Homo sapiens: one gene and its partners. The protein of the gene in region 1 interacts with the protein of each later gene in a pairwise test. Each region holds a gene or a part of one and is shown on either strand. Other genes may lie near its edges. The genes, in order: RAB11FIP4, RAB11FIP2 and PKNOX1.

What was found.
Region 2: the proteins of RAB11FIP4 (region 1) and RAB11FIP2 interact in a two-hybrid assay, tested with the Homo sapiens proteins (one study listed by BioGRID).
Region 3: the proteins of RAB11FIP4 (region 1) and PKNOX1 interact in a two-hybrid assay, tested with the Homo sapiens proteins (one large-scale study listed by BioGRID and IntAct).

What each region holds. Positions count from the first base shown.
Region 1 is NC_000017.11:31,394,601-31,398,253, reverse strand, and holds part of RAB11FIP4 (rab11 family-interacting protein 4), read right to left. Parts: intron 1-3,653. UniProt on the Homo sapiens protein: Acts as a regulator of endocytic traffic by participating in membrane delivery. Required for the abscission step in cytokinesis, possibly by acting as an 'address tag' delivering recycling endosome membranes to the cleavage furrow during late cytokinesis.
Region 2 is NC_000010.11:118,008,841-118,012,493, forward strand, and holds part of RAB11FIP2 (rab11 family-interacting protein 2), read right to left. Parts: intron 386-3,653; coding exon 158-385; 3' UTR 1-157. UniProt on the Homo sapiens protein: A Rab11 effector binding preferentially phosphatidylinositol 3,4,5-trisphosphate (PtdInsP3) and phosphatidic acid (PA) and acting in the regulation of the transport of vesicles from the endosomal recycling compartment (ERC) to the plasma membrane.
Region 3 is NC_000021.9:43,015,934-43,019,586, reverse strand, and holds part of PKNOX1 (homeobox protein PKNOX1), read right to left. Parts: intron 2,680-3,653; coding exon 2,580-2,679; intron 1,455-2,579; coding exon 1,357-1,454; intron 1-1,356. UniProt on the Homo sapiens protein: Activates transcription in the presence of PBX1A and HOXA1.

The DNA of each region.
Region 1 (3,653 bases):
AGCCTGGCCAACATGGCAAAACCCTGTCTCTACTAAAAATACAAAAAATTAGCTGGGCGTGGTGGCACATGGCTGTAATCCCAGCTACTCGGGAGGCTGAGGTGAGAGAATCGCTTGAACCCCGGAGTTGGAGGTTGCAACGAGCCACTGCACTCCAGCCTGGGTGACAGAGTGAGACTCCGTCTCAAAAAAAAAAAGTGTCTGACAAAAAATTAGCTGAGCATGGTGGCATATACTTGCAGTGCCAGCTACTTGGGAGGCTGGGGCAGGAGGACGGTTTGAGCCCAAGAGCTCGAGGCTGCAGTGAGCCATGATGCACCCCTGAACTCCAGCCTGAGCTACAAAGCGAGAGCCTGTTTCAATTAAAAAAAAAAAAAAAGGCAGGGGCGTGTCTGATAAGATGGATGAGTCCCAGCAGACTTTCTGCATCTGGCCTCCTCCCAGCACAGCCAAACTGGTGGGCACAAGAGGCCAGAGGGTGCCCCAGCTAGGACTCGTCCTCCCGCCTCAATGCAGAGTGTGGTGCCACATGCCCATCCCCAGGCCCCAAGGGATCCCCAGCCCTGGCCCCACTTCCATGATGACCTCCAACCTCAGGAGCACAGTTTCCCAGAAGCATAGGAAAGAGAACATCTCTCTGGGCTCACTCTTGTCCTGCTTCCACCTCAGGTCCCAGGCACTCCCACCTTTTCTGCCAGGCTCAGGGCACCTGGGCCTTCCTTCTGATGTGCCAGCCTTGTCACTCTGCATGGTAGCCTCATTAGGGTGGGGCACATAGAGGTTGCCTGGTCTCAAAAGAGCACCTTTAACTATCACCTTTTGGGAGTAGCTCGTTGGGACTTTGCCGGCCTTCCAGGCCCCTGTCAATTCTGCACCCCCCGCCACTGCCCAAGTTAGGATGCTCTTCCTCTCTTACCATGTGCCACAGTCCCGAGGAGGCCTCCTGCCTCCAATCCTGCTCCCCATCCCCTGTTCTCTCATACACATCCACTCTTGGCTGCCTAGGTCTCACTGCCTACAGGGAACCACTGATCTGGCCCTACCTTCCCCTTCACCCCTTCCTCCAGCCACAGCTGTGGGGATACAGTTGTTTCTTCCCTGTTATCCAATTGCTACTCCTGAGCAGAGGAGCTTTAGTTCCAGGTGCTCCTGTTCCTGGAAGCCACGTATCTCAAAAGACATCGATCCCAGCCCCAGGGCTGGCTCCTGGCCGGTCTCAGCCCATCCTAGCACCCCAACCCCTTTGCCATTTCAAAGACCCAGGCTTAACCCAAGTGGCACTAGCAATTCCCCCATAGCAGGCATTAGCTCAGAGGGGACCTGAGGACTCAGGGAGCCCAGTGGGGACCATCATTTCATTTCCAAGCAGGCAGGACAGGCCCACTGTCCAGAGGAGATGGTGCTGTGTTAATGCATGGGAGAGGCCTACTTGGTGATTCTTATTTCTATTTTTCTAGCAAGAAGGACGGTCTTCAAACTGGAAAGGGAAGAGGACCATGTCACAGGGAAGTGTGGTCCAGGACATCTCTGGCTGCTTTCAATGTCTACCATTCTGACTGCCGAGGGGACGTAAGAGGGGCAGGAACACCACAGCTGGTTAAGGAGGGTGAGTTGAGCACACAGAGGCCGGTGCCAGATCTTGACCTCAATTCCTAGCAAATCTCCAGCCTAGAACAGCCTCTCAAAAATGCTTGCAAGTGTTTAGAAAATAATAATAATGACAAGGAGAGCACCAGCAATTCTGATATTATGCCTACTCTGTGCAGATACTGGACTAAGCCCTTTGTATGTATTAACTCACTCAAACCCCACAATAACCCTATAGAATGGGGACTCTGATCAGCCCCATTTGATGGATGAGTAAATAGAGGCCTAAAGAGGTTAGGGAGACAATGCAATATATCAGAAGGCAACACAGGGTCAGGATGTTGAGCCATCATGTTACATACTTATCAGAGTCCTGCTCCCTGGCATTGTAGACTTTCAGGATCAGGGCAGTGGTGTGCCCCCATCCCTCAAAAATCTGCATTTCTTTCTTTTCTTTTCTTTTCTTTTCTTTTTTTTTTTTTTGTGGCAGGGTCTCACTCTGTCACCCAGGCTAGAGTGCAGCGATGTAATCTCAGCTCACTGCAACCTCCGCCTCCCAGGTTGAAGCGATTCTCCTGCCTCAGTCTCCCAACTAGCTGGGATTACAGGTGCACGCCACTACACCGGGCTAATTTTTGTATTTTTTGTAGAGATGGGGGGTCTCACCATGTTACCCAGGCTGGTGTGGAACTCCTGAGCTCCAGTGATCCTCCCACCTCAGCCTCCCAAAGTGTTAGGATTACCGGCATGAGCCACCACGCCCGGCCCATTGTCTCCTCTTTTCTGCTGTGATACCTAGGTCAACAAAGTAGGGAACTATCAGGGACTAACCTAATCCATAAATAACATTATTAAGTAACATTCATACTTGATCCTGACTTCCTTAGTTTTTACCTAATGTCCTCTTCTTGATTCTAGGGTCCCATCCAGGACACCACACTGCATTTAGTCAGCTGCCTCCTTAGTCTCCACTTGGCTCTGACAGTGTCTCAAAATTTCCTTGTTTTGGATGACCTTGACAATTTTGAGAGGTCCTAATCAGGCATTTTGTAGAATGCCTCTCGGATGGGATTTGTCTGGCATTTTTCTCAGGACTAGACTGGGATTACTGGTTTGGGAGGAAGACCACAGAGGAAAAGTTCTATTCTCACCACATCACACCAAGGGTGTATGCCATCATCACAATCTGTCACTATCGATGTTGTCCTTGATCACCTTCTGAGACAGTGTTTGTTGGGTTTCTCCACTATACAGTTGCTGTTCCCCCCACTTTCCAAACTCTACCCTTTATAAGGAAGCCACTACGCACATCTCATGCTTACACGGTGGGACGTTATGCTTCACTTCCTCAATGGGGCAATTATCAACATACGTTATTCAGATTTCTTCTATACGAGAGATTTTCCTATTTATTTATTATCATCTGTTCAATAATTTATACATATATATATTTCATTATGGCCTCATGGATATTTATTTCATACTTTATGACCTAGTATATTTTGGTTTTTGCAAAGCATTTGATCCTGGTATCCCTGGTATTCTGGGGGTAGGTGGTAAACTGTGGACAATCAGCTCTAAGTTCACTGAACTACATATCTAATGAATGATCATTATCCATCCCAGAGCACAAGTGGCTGGGAAATCAATGTCACTGCCTGATTTTAAAACAAATAAAATAGAAACAGTCAGAGTACACTGCATTTCGTAAGGGAGCCCCCCCCCCCCGCCCCCCGCCACCCCACCGCTGGAAAACAACACTCCGATTTTTTAATGCATCAGGGGATAAGATGGGTAGTGAGTAGAGATGCAAAATATATTTCCACGGGTCTCGGTCAATACAGCATAAGCCGAAAACCACCCCTACAAGTGCCTCGGGGCCCTGTCCATGGTCCTGCCCTGCAATGTTTAACCAGCCTTGTGGATTCAGACACACCAAGCACTGCTTCTCCAGCCCGCAGGCAGCAGCACAGCTGAGAGTGATAGAGGTAGGATGCTAGATTCTCTTTCTTGACAGATACAATGTGATGAAATGAACAAGACGAAATTAAATGGGAATAAGGGCC
Region 2 (3,653 bases), on another chromosome or scaffold:
TCCCTGCTAATATTTACAGGTAAAACTACTCTTCACAATAAAGGAGAATATGTAATGAAACCTGATAGTGTAGTCTCTTTCAGTAACAAGTTTTTCCTTCCTTCCTTCTTTCTTTCTCTCTCTTTGTCCAATTATCAATACAATACAATTGGCTTTATTAACTGTTAGAGAATTTGCCAGCTTTCCTGGATGGTTCATACGGCACTCTGAGAATACTGGGCGTTTCTTCCATTACCCTTACAAGGAGGTTGTCGATGTAGTCCTCGAGTTCCCGGATGTGGGTGTCTTTCCTCCTAAGGAGTTCTTTGTGTTTCACCAGCTCCTGTAGAACCTCTTCATAGGTCAGACTACGATACCCTGCAGTGGCATCAAAGGGGTTGCTGTCCTAGAACAGGATAAAGACTGTCACTTTCATAGATATAACATCTGGGACAAACATTAAGAATTACCTGGAACTTCGACTTTTTGTTTTTCAAACCCTGATGAAGTTTTTCGCTAGCCTTGCTTAAAGTGAATGTGACAGTTCACAAATTGGCTAGCCAGTCCTGAGGCAAGAACTAGGGCAGATGCACCAAAGTTTTGACTATAACTCTAAATCCTAAAACCCTTTCTAACATTGTGGGCAATTTCCTAATATCTGAGACTGGTTATATCATGTAAGATTACATTAAGAGATGAAATATTCTATAATAAATACAACTAAAATAGATGAAAACTAAAGATTTCTAAAAGTTAACTCAGAGGAACTGTAAGAAGTAACTGAAAACTATACACTTGGACTTGTGTCCTTATGAAACTGCTTCCACTGAACTGTGATTTAATGTTATATGTTTGGCTTCTTAGTGAAGATGGTTACAGCAAAAATCTTTTCTAATTTGCTATGAAAATGGAAGCACTCGGAATTAAATCAAAGATTATCCTTACAGGAAGCCCCATGTGAGTAACTTCTGTTTTAATTTAGAAACAGGCAGAACTTTTCCTCCCCTGAGTAACTGGTCTATTTCTTTCTCCTATAATAATATCTAATTTATCTTCTTTCCCTTTTTGACCCTGGTTATCAGGAAACTCAAGAGTTCAACCATATTAATACTACGGTTAGTATATTTGCATTCTCTCCCATTTCATCTATTTACTTAACTTTATTCTATTGACAAAAATTCTTTTTAGGCAAAAGCATAAATATAACCAAAAATCTTTTTTAAAAGACACTTATTAATTCACTGTTATTACAAAGCATTCTAATATTAATGTTATATCAAAAGTGAAAGAAAAATATTTCTCAGGAATTTAATCAAGGCCCTGTAACATAATCTTTTATTTATAGTGTATAGCATTAAGAGTTTTCATTCTGTAAAACATAATGCCCAATTACAACTAAGCAATTTTTTATTCTTTTTAAATCATAGTTCTCTCATTAAGCCCAACAATTTAAAATAATTTTCATCACTATCTTTTAAAACATTTCCATTTGGCTTTAAGGAAACTTAACTAAAATATTGAGGAAATTGGTTTTCTTGCTGTTAAGGAATACTATCTAATCTATTCAGTGGAGGATGGGGAATGGGGACTGGTGAATGCAGAATGACCCCCACCCCCAATAAGAATTAAACTGTCCTTCCCTGTTTTCAGGATCTACTTTAATAGTGCTATGTATTTGGGGGTGTTCATGAGAAAAGCCAAAGTTTAACTTTTCACTGGCCCTCACCACTTCCCCAGCCTCTCAGCCCAAGGAACCAGGACTTTACCAGACCAGAGAAAGAGAAGCTAGAGTACAGATACCAATTTGATGCTTGGGTCATTGAAGCACACCCACTTCTCCAGGATAAGTGAAAACATTCAGGACTGAAAAACTTTTCCAATTTCATAGAATCTCTCAGGCTTTGTGGAGAAGATACAGCTTGCGCTAGGCCTTCAAGAGTTTGCAGGCAGAAATGCGTAATGGGGCATTTCAAGCAGTGAACTCTGCTTGTTCAAAGAAGGAAACAAGGCTCAAGGCATAGTGGCCAACAGGTAATCCAATAACAGGTACTCTGTAGAGCATGGCTGGAAAATACTGTACAGGACAGCGAGCAGACAGGGGCCGAAATGGAAGGTTTGAAATAGACCACCAAGAATGCTGAATGGTAGTATAAAGAATTTTTAGACTTTTGCTATGGAAAATAGGAAGCCACTGAAGGTTTCTAAACAGAGAAAGGATATGATTAAAGCTATGTTCCAGGAAAAGTAAAATGGCAACAGTGGAATCATTTGGAGGGGCTAAGATTAGGTATAGGGCTATTGAAATATGAAAGACCAGAGTTAGCAAGAATGAATAGAGAGGATATTAAAGGGAAGTGAGTTTAAATTCTATAAAATATGTCTAAAACAACTTAGTTTATTTTAGCATTAGAAACTGGAAACAGATGTAAGTTTCAGTCATATTTCCTTCATCCTTAAAAACATTTCAAATATTGTTCTAAAACCATTAAAGGACAATTCTAGAGATAAGTGTTGTTTTACTTCTCCCTCCTCTCTCAGATCAATTAATCTTTTATAAGTCTACACACATGCGCACACACACACACACACTCTCATGCACGTAGTTACTAGTTTAATTGGTCATAATATATAGTTTGGAGATACATAAGTATTAATTACATTCTTATAAAAGATTATGTTAAGCCGTTTTCTACAGTAAAGAGAAGACATAGTGTAGAGTTCGGTATACTTTTGAAATTTCTTAAAAATAAGCTAAAGTGTCTTACTTCAACTCGAGTAATTCTGCATAAATTTGAGAGAGAAAGCAACTTGGGTCTCACTTTCCTTATCTGATAGATGAGATGTTCTCCATGGTCCCTTTCAACTCTAAAATTGTCTGGTATACCAAGTGATTTTTCTAAACCCCACTTTAAAAACTAATAAACTCTAACTAATGTGATTTCACTTTTCTAATAAAACATTTACTGAGAAATTCATGTTCTTGTGAGAATTGCAGGGATTAATGAAAGGAAGCTAAATGGGATTCATTACTGATTAGTTGACTGCTTTATGCTTTTTCTTTATTTAACATAATAAAAGCATCTATTCAAGTCTCTCTAATCTTAATAAAATTACACATATATAAACTGATTTCTCCAAACTAATTAAGCTATGAAATAGTTAAAATAAAAGTGCACTGTTATATTTAACACTATTACCAGTTAATGTAGTTAAAAATTTTTTGTAACATTTCTCTAAAGACACTGAAGATGAAAAACGTTTCAAAAATTTGTGTTTTGATATAAATTAAAGCCATGATATAAATTAATAGTTTAATCTTTCAAAATAATCAATTATTATTTCAGACTACTGGTCATACTTTATAGCCATACTCTAGAATACACAGATATGTTATTTGGATTATTTTTTTTTTCCTTACAACAATCTAACACTAATGTGTAGACAGATTTCCTGGAAATACATTTCTGGCCTTTTCAATAAATTTTCCGTTTGTCCTTTTATGTGAAAATTTCACCTCAAATTTTAGCATCAAGTTTCTAGGCAGGAAAACATCTTAGAAACATATGTACTATGAATTATATTCTGGAAAAGAATATAAAATAATTAAAAACAGTTTCATGCTGAGTTCCAGATTTTATCTGATATTTGAAAACAATGTAAACCTTCTAATTTTA
Region 3 (3,653 bases), on another chromosome or scaffold:
TGGGCAACAGAGTGAGACTTCGTCTCAGAAAAACAAAAGTAATGCTTTCTCAATGTTGGGTAGAAAGGATTTTCAACCCAGAATTCTACAAGTAAACAGACTGCATATCAAATATGAGATTAAAATAAACTCATTTTTAGGTTTGCAAAGTCTCAAAAAAATGTGTGTTTTTTTTTTGTTTATTTTATTTTATTTGAGATGGAGTTTTGCTCTTGTTGCCCAGGCTGGAGTGCTGTGGCACGATCTCGGCTCACTGCAACCTCCACCTCCCAGGTCAAGCAATTCTCCTGCCTCAGCCTCCCGAGCAGCTGGGATTATAGACATGCACCCGACATCCAGCTAATTTTTGCATCTTTAGTAGAGACGGGGTTCCACTATGTTGGACAGGCTCGCCTCAAACTCCTAACCTCAAGAGATCCACCCATCTCGGCCTCCCAAAGTGCTGGGATCACAGGTGTGAGCCACTGCACCCGGCCAGAATCAATGTTTTTTTTTTTTTTTTGAGATGGAGTCTCACTCTGTCGCTCAGGCTGGAGTGCAGTGGCACGATCTCAGCTCACTGCAACCTCTGCTTCCCGGGTTCAAGCGATTCTCCTGCCTCAGCCTCCCGAGTAGCTGGGATTACAGGCGTGCACCACTGCACCCAGCTAATTTTTGTATTTTTAAGGACAGGGTTTCACCATACTGGCCAGGCTAGTCTTGAACTCCTGACCTCGTGATCTGTCCACCTTGGCCTCCCAAAGTACTGGGATTACAGACGTCACCGTGCCCGGCCCAGAATCAATGTTCTTAAAGTAAGAACTGATAACACACACCAAAGACGGGCAAGGCTCAGCAGCCGCAGAGATAGCGCCACTGCACTCCAGCCTGGGTGACAGAGAGGCCTGAAAGCCCTGGCCCAATGACATTGTCATGATGGAGGTGTGGGCCAGGCTCACTGGTCTGAAAAGCTTGCCTGGCAGTTCTGCCGTGCCCTTTGTGGGGACCCTGGGGAGTGTGTGCCTACAAGACCTCTGCCCCTGGTGCACGTGCACATGATCCAACGTTAGCACTGGATAACTCTGTGTGTGTGTGTGTGTGTGTGTGTGTGTGTGTGTGTGTGTGTGTGTGTGGGTGGCAGGGGGTGGTTATGAGTGACTTTTTTCCTGTTCTTTCAGAATTTTCTGAACTTTGCAAATTCTCTACAATGCGAGAGATAAGAGTACAAAGAAACAAAACACTGACATTCAGAGAAACCAGAAATTGCTACACAAGACAAAGCTCTTCAGGCAGAGGGAAGGGCTCATGCTTGTTCTACCTGTGCCCCTATGTGGGCAGCACTCGCCCCCAAAGCCTTCCATAAAATGGCGCACGCACCTGGGAGTTCTGGATCCTAATTGTCCCAGGCGACAATGTCTGTGTGACCACTTGGCCTTGGGGAGTGACGACCGTGACAGGCTGATACACTGTGCCACCTCGAAAGGGAGAATAAAAATATGAGGCTGCTTTTAAGTCTCAATGATTTAAACCATTCTTCTTTTTTTTTTTTTTTTTTTTTTTGTAGAGACAGGGACATTGCTTTGTTGCCCAGGCTGGTCTCTAACTCCTGGCTTCAACTGATCCTCCTGCCTTGGCCTCCCAAAGTGCTGGAATTACAGATGTGAGGCACTGCGACCAGCCCTCTTCTTGATATACTTACAAAAGGAATAAAATCCCTGGTTTGATGAGCTTTTTAATCATTTCAAAAGATCAACAATCCTTTGCCAGTTGACTTGTCACTATAAAGTATCAAAACAAACTCCCTGGGTGGGCTACTCGGGCACCTGCAGCAGTGGGTGGGCAGGTGGGTGGGCGCTATGTGCCTGGCAGCCCACACAGCCCGGCTCACACACCACCAACTGACCTGGGGTGTGAGGGCTCCCTTCCTTTTGCTAGCCTCTGCTTTCTACTATTTCCTAAAATTAGCACATGTTAAGGATTTGGCCAAGGGTACTAAATAATAACTATTTTAATTCTAGTTATATTTTTGGATCAATGGTGCTTTTTTTTTTCCCACTGAGGTTTCCCTTTGTGCTATTATGTGAGGTCTTTGGTGTAAATTTCTACCCCTCCCTCTTTGCCGTGTCCCATTTCCATGATGCTTTGTGTTTTCAATGTTCTCTACGCATCAGGGAACTCTGGAATCTGTCCCTTTCCTGTAACGGTTTTGTTCTACAAGTAATACCAATGCTAAGACTGCATTTTTATTTGTCATCAATTAATGATAAAACTTAAGATTTTCACGGTGCTATTAAAAGCACAACAAAAAGCTATGTTATTTGAAAATGACAACTGGTTTTTGGTGTATATTTTCAATTCCTACATAAAACCTTTTTTCTTTCCAATATATTTTTGGTAGAGAAACAAAGAAACACAATCTGCATAAAATATTTGTTATTGAGTATTAACAAGAAAGAGGCATTCAGAGACCTCTAGCTTCTAACATTGCTATATTAGAAAATGGCATGAACTTGAAATTATATTTATACTGTCATTCTAACACACAGGACCATTTTCTGCAAAAACTCATGGAGAGTGTGTCCATTTTTCTGTCATCGTACCTGCCACCGTCGCCATGGCTACGTTTCCCTGCTGCAGCGCGGACGCCGGCACCACAATTCCCTGAGGGCTGATGGTGCCTGTGATGGCACTTTGAATCTGCTGCAAGTCAGAACACACATGTTGAAGGAATTACTAGAAAACGGAAAACCCATGTTTAAAACTTTAACATAAGTAGCATAATGACACCATTAAAAAAGGAAAGAGAAGCTTGAGGGAAAGAACATCCTCAGATGACGCGGCTTCAGAATGCACGCAGCACACACGGAAAGCAAGAGATGTTCAACTGTGTATTAAACACAACAAGCCAGCCTGCAACGTCAGCCTGCACTGTGGCTTCCAAAAGATTATCTTCATCTCACTGCCATATTCCACGTGCCTTACAGCCCAGGAGTATATCGAGGAAGACCCTGCTTTCTGATCACACATCTTTTTCATTAGACTTGGCTTGGTGGACTCTTGAGTTTTCCATGAACCAAGCTCTCCCTGACCGATAAGAGCATTCAAGAGATTATAGCACAGGCCTGGGAGGCACTAGAAGTGACCAGGGCTGAGGTATTCCAAGCTGTGCTGGGGAGTCAGCCCCTGGCACCCACCTTGACTCTTGACCCCGGCACGGACTAAGTGTGATCTTGGCTTTCCCCAGTGTTCTTGCTTGTACAGTGCTTGGAACTGTGCCCGGCCTACAGCGAGCCCCATGCAAATGTTTCTACATGCCCCATGGAGGACTCTATGCATCTGGGGTTAGATCCACATGGGCCACTTTATCCACTGACTGTGACGCCTGGGTGGGCAGCTGGCAGGGGAGAGGAGCCTCCAGTGCCGGGCCTGGCACACTCATGTGCCCTGACATGTGAGCAGTTACATAGCATAAGGGGACGCCACCCCAAGGCGGTGATTCTGTGGGCCATCATCGAGCGGAATGTGTAAGCTTAGTGGCTACGCTTAAAGCCTGCCACATTAATTAGGCTGTAATAAAAGTTAAGCTAGTCAAATCAATCATCCCAGCTTCCACCTTAAGATCTTAGAAAAAGAGGAACATCATGAACCGAAAGCAGAAGAAAGGAAATAATAAA